Regions from separate parts of the Homo sapiens genome. Here region 1 is linked to region 2. The links come from fine-mapping of genetic effects on gene expression. A gene starts in region 2. The other region holds a variant in brackets. All regions are shown on one strand. Distances are between the middles of the regions. Region 1 has its middle 9.8 kb from the start of TRAF1. Region 2 holds the start of B3GALT9 (beta-1,3-galactosyltransferase 9).

Region 1 (2,912 bases), 140 kb after region 2:
CTGGGCTTTAGTGATCCTCCTGCTTTGGCCTCCCAAAGTGCTGGGATTATAGGCATGAGCCTACAATCTTTTTGTAAATTTTAAAAATAATTCTAGCATATATATCTAGCAACACTTTCTGGAGATCATTGTCTTAATCATTTCAGATGTGCACTTGTAACATTTTAAAATGCAAAATCAAATAGATAAGAAAAGCCATTCTGTCTACTGCCATCCTTGGTTACTATCTTCTGTAACCAGTGCCCAGCTGCACAGCCAGAGAGCTGTGGGTAGGGCCCATGGCTCTCTCTGGCCCCTGTGATTGCTGAAACTGGAACTGCTTGGGGAGCCCTGGGGCCCTGGCACCAGCTCCTGCTCAGTCCTGCTTCTCCTTTCACAGGGAACATGTCTACACACCAGCTCTCCTGAGCAGTCTTGGAACCCCTCCAAGGACAGCCCTGGACACTGGCCAAGGGGGAGGGTGCCCCTGGGAAGGACGTATCTATCAGGAAGCAGAGACTGTGGCAGGCAGGCATACACACGCACATGCTCGCAGGATGGCTGGCTTACCCAAGATTTCAAAAGAAGTTGGAAATCTGGATTTTTATGTGAAACGACTTGATTTTTAGAACACCCTATAAGCCAAAAAATAAACCCAAACCAAATGAGCATCCCTATGAACTGTGTCTGTGGGCCACTATTTGTGACCTCTGGTAGAGCCTGGCACTCCATAAACACAACAAAAGCAGATGTGTGAACGTGCCCACATGTAACTCACCCGGGCTGTTCACATTGTTCATCCAGATGTGGACCCTGCACACACATAATAGAGACCTTCATTGGACATTGACACACACATAGTATCTCCCGGGATGTGGTTTTAATATTTGCACTTTCCACCTAAGGAGACTGAATGTCAGAAAGATCTCTAAGATCATGTCAAAATCTAGGCTGCCTGACCACAAAGCCAGTGTTCTGAACCGCTGCACAAACCACCACCCAGATGCCTGCACTCTGAATTAAAATTGCCAGTTACTTTGCATCCTTCTCTAAACTAAGCTTTATGAATTTAGAGACTGTGTTTCATTTGCTGGTGCATCCCATCACCTGGCACTATGCCCAGCAGAGCACAGAAGGTGCTCAATACGTACTGGTGGGATTGTACCCACAGGCTCATACAAACGTGTACAGACAGGGCACATGTAAACCCACATAGCCCCACCATGCTGAAGAACACATGCACACTGACGTTCCCACATGCACA[C/T]CACCCACCTCCATCTCCCACCCGCCAGGGCATTGGACCCTAAGCTGGGGCAGCCCAAGTTTCCCCTGCCAGCCCCCTGCCAGCCTTGCCCAAAGCCTTCAGAAATAGTTTCCTGGAAATCTCGAGGCGGCTGTGGTGTTCTTTTTCCTAACTCAGGAGACAACTCAGCAGTTTTGTTTTTCAAAGTCTGAGACTCATAAACCTGGAATCCTTTCTTCATTTTTTCCACCAGAATTTTCCTTGGCCTGTTGCCTTCCCCCAGGGCCTTGGCTAGGAGGTTACACTCGGAGCGCCCTCTGCCGGGCACTGTCCTCCCAACCTTGTGGGCAGTTGCAGATGGGACCTGCCCCAGGCTGCTTTACAGATGGGAACCTAAGTCAGATGGTGGTAGTGAGGAGAGGTTAGAGGATACTGGCCCATTGCAAGTGTGTGCCAGTGTTATTACTAGCAAGGGATCTTTTGTGATTTTTTTTTACGTTTTTGAAAATAAAAGAATAAATAGCTTCAAGAGCTCAGATGAAGGCCCTCTGCTCTCCCAAGGGCCTCTGTGTGGGGCAGATGACAGAGGTTTGGGAAAATCACCTCATTCAACTTTATTCTTGGGTCTCCATCACATTTAATAAGTGAGGAAATGGAGACACAGAGAGATTTTGGGGGAAGAGGTGCGAGGAATATTTATTGAATGGCTGCTATGTGCAAGGTATACTTATGAATCTCTGTCATTTCATCTTGGCAAATAAACCTGTAGGGTAGTTGCTTTTGTTTCCATTTTACAGATTAAGACATAGAGGCTCAGTGAGGTCTCTCAAGGTCAGAAAGGGAAGGGGAAGAGCTAGGATTTGAATCCAAATCTTCTTTTTCTTGGCTTCGTAGCCTCCTGGATTTTTTCCATTTGGCTGCAGGTCTGAGTTCAGTGGGGCCCAGGGTGGAGCCTTTGTGGCTGGACTCATCAGAGGCCAGGGTTCCTTGGCCTGGCTGCCCAGAAAGGCAAGCCTTTCTCCTTGTACACTACCAGAGAGCAATCTTTGGGGGACACAGTCTTTAGGGGACACAGGGGAATGGGTCAAGCAGCCCCACCAGGACTCAGAGCTGGGAATAGGCTCCTGGGACTGGCAGCTGTGCCAAGGCCCCTTAACAGTAAAAAACAGGATCAAATGCCTTTATCAACCAAACGCATGAGAGGCTCCAAAGGGCAGGGTTTTTTCTGGGAAAGAAAGCAGGTCCTGAAAGGTTTTTGTTTTGTTTTTCTTCTTAATGGGACCCTACATTTCACCAAGAGTTAGTCACTACCCTCCCTAATCCATCCTCCATCCTGCAGCGCTGTCCAGAAACTTTCAAAATGTCTCAGTTCCTGCAGGAAAACATCCAAACCCTTTATCTTGTTTGTTTTTGGTCTGGCTTGGCCTTATCTTCCACTTGTCTCATATAAGCAAACTGCTTAAGGGTCTCTGTCTGCACCTCCCTTGAGTCCCACTGCTGGGTGTTTGCTTACATTACTTCTCCTCTCAGAAATAACTTCATTTCAGTGTATCCAAACCTTAGTCATTCTTCCAGACCCAGCTTAGAGGCCATCTTCTCCATGGAGCCTTCTCCACTGCATGCAGCAGAAATGAACCTGCCTTGTACTTGTCTCATGGGCACATGTTGTAGTTCCCCTAATAGACTGAAT
Region 2 (2,912 bases):
GAGACAGGACCTTCTGGAAAACAGTGTAAATGTGTTTTCCCCTCCTCCTCTATCAGAACCTGGCCTAGTCAAGAGTGAAAGCAACATAATTGTTAGTGGTAGAGGGAAGGAGGCTTCATTTCCCCCTTTTCTTATCAAACAAAGAGCACAGAGGCGCTGAAAATGTATACACACCTATAAACTTACATATGCATAAAATGTATTCTGAATATTCAAGAAACTGATAACCCTGGTTGCCTCCAGAGAGAACTGGAGAGCTGCAGAATAGGAATGAGGGGTCCCTTTTTATTGTATACCTTTTAAAACTGAAAACCATGTTAAGTATAATATACTATCAAAAAATAGCCTTTAGTTTTAAGGTGAATTTTTTTAAAGCTTTGAAAGAATACAAATAATGTTTATAAAATATGTGTTCTGCAACTCCACTTGTTGCTGGGTGACCTTGGGCAAATCACTTCACCTGTCTCATGCCCTGTTTCCTCACTTGTAAAATACAGCCAAGAGCATTACCTACAAGGGTTTTTATGAGGGTTAAACAAGACAGTGCAAGTAAAGCGTTTAGCACAGTACTCGGCACGCTGTAAGCCTACAGTAAATGTCAGTTACCATTATTACTTAGCATTAATATTGTTATCTTTGCTTTACTTCAAGCAGCACCCCACATACACACCTGTTTTCATGGCATACCCACAATTATGGCGCAGTATAGCGCTTTGTACTTCATAAACCACCTCATCACACTTCATCGTCTTTCAAACGTTTGGTAGCCCTGGGACATCACTGTTAACTCATTTCGCAGCTAAGGAAATGGAGGCAGTAGGAGGCAGTAACTCCAAAACCCTGTTTTCCCGTCTCTAAAATCCAGATCCCATCAACCCATTCGTTGCTCCCAGGTCCCTTGCTCTCGGAATCGTGTTCCGCGCGGCACTGACCTGAGCGAGCGCCCCGGGGCCCGGGACCTCGCGCCGGGTTCACAGCTACTAGGCACGCTCGGACCGCCAGAGCCTTGCAGCGGCCGGGTCCGCTCCGCAGCCATGGCGCCTGCAGGGAAAGAAAAACAGCCAAGGCGCGGCGGGTCAGCAGAGCCGCGGGCGCCTAAGAGTCCCCTCCCCGACCGGCCCCGCCTCGCATACAGACCCGGACCTGCGGCCGCTGCTCCCGGTCCGCAGCCTCACAGGGGAGCGGCTTCCGGTGCTGCCTGCGTCATCTCCGCGCGTCCCTCAGCTCCGCGGCTCCCGGCGGAAGCGGCTGCACTTCCGGTCCCCGCCCGGAGGTGGGTGGTGGGAGGCTGGAGGCCGGGAGTAGGGGTGGGGAGAAGAGCGTCCCGGGAAGCTGAACGCGTGCCGCGCGGCCCTCACGGTGCTTAGGCTGGGTGCAACCTAGAACGGAGGTTCCTTTCGTACCGTACATCCAGGTTTGCACAGCGCGCTTATGTCCCTCCTCCAATCTGATCTTGCACCAGCTCTGCAGTAGTTTTTCTTATTATCCTCATTTTACGGAGGAGAGGGAGCTGTGGCTTAGAGAAGTTAAGAGACGTGTCCAAATTCATACAACCTGTTGGGCACCTCTTTATCCCGAACGCTGTTCTAGGGGATAGGGTTAGTGAACAAAAAACGCAAAAGCCCCTGACCGCCTGGGCCTTACATCTATTAGGAGGAGGAAGACAGATAAACTAAGGCTCGTGCAAAGGAGAAAAATAAAGCAAGGTAAGGAGGTTGTTGAATGAAAAGAGACAGTCAAGTGATGTAGATTTGAATGAATCACAACGTTTACACTCTGGCTGTGGCCCGGTTACTTAACCTCTCAGACTTTGCTTCATCTGCATAGCAATTATAGTGAGGTCCCCATCCGAAGGCTCTGAGGATTGAAGGAAATGAAGCATGCAAACCTTTTGGCGTCAAGAACTAAAACTGAGCTAAAAAATCCCACGCACTCTTTCTCAACATTTTTTGTGTACCATCTCACTCAGTTCCCACAACAACCCCACAAGCTAGTAACTATTATTAGGCCCCTTTTTAGAGATGGGGAAACTGAAATCAAAAGAGGTTTAGGCATCTTGCCTAAGGTCATAGTAAATGGCTGTCATAGGATTTCAACCCAAACCGACTTCAGAGCACAAGTTATCCTTTTTTTTTTTTTGAGGCAACGTATCACTCTGTCGCCCAGGCTGGAGTACAGTGACACGATCTTGGCTCACTGCAGCCTCGACTTCTCCAGGCTCAAGCGATCCTCCCACCTCAGCCTCCTGAGTAGAAGGGACCACAGGCGCGTGTCACCATGCCCAGCTAGTTGTGTGTGTGTGTGTGTGTGTGTGTGTGTGTGTGTGTGTGTATTTTTGTAGAGTCAGGGTTTCGCTATGTTACCCAGGCTGGTCTTGAACTCCTAGGCTCAAGTGATCCACCTGCCTGGGCCTCCCAAAAAGTGCTGGGATTACAGGGGTGAACCACAATGCCCAGCGCACAAGTTATCCTTGTTTCTCTGTAAGGGTTCCTAAGCCATACATGCATACACGCACATTCACATACATCTTATACCAACACTGTCCAATAAGCTTTTTGCCAGTGATGGAGTTGTTCTGTTGGTGCTGTCCAATAAGGCAGTCACTAGTCTCTTGTGGCTACTGAACATTTGAAAAGTACCTGATGTAAATGAACTAAATTCTTAATTTTATTTAATTTTAATTTAATAGCCACATGAGGCTAATGGCTACCATGCTTGATAGCACAGTCCAATAATATAGACAATAAGAGAGACACATATCCAGTAGATGGTAGAGCATGGCCAAGGTTCCAAGCATCCTGACTTCATTTAGGGTACTTGAAACATGGGAAATAAAAATTGATTATGTGGGGTGGAAGTCAACTACGGTGTCCTAAAAGTAAGGTCTCAAGAGAGCAAATTTGATTTGCTAA

What was found. PIP is the estimated chance that this variant, and not a neighbour inherited with it, causes the effect.
Region 1: its variant is fine-mapped to the expression of B3GALT9 in whole blood (INTERVAL, PIP 0.92).

The regions. Positions count from the first base shown.
Region 1 is chr9:120,935,159-120,938,070 of GRCh38, forward strand. No RefSeq gene overlaps it. Among named protein-coding and RNA genes, the nearest start is that of TRAF1, 9.8 kb to the left of the region's middle. The variant C/T (reference allele first, on the strand shown) is at 1,244.
Region 2 is chr9:120,792,217-120,795,128 of GRCh38, forward strand. B3GALT9 (beta-1,3-galactosyltransferase 9) reads left to right here and starts at 1,251. Exons shown (of 3, transcript NM_001386823.1): 1 at 1,251-1,706. FBXW2 (F-box and WD repeat domain containing 2) reads right to left here and starts at 1,200. Exons shown (of 8, transcript NM_012164.4): 1 at 1,138-1,200; 2 at 933-1,041. RefSeq lists enhancers at 901-1,531, 1,594-1,693, 2,124-2,213.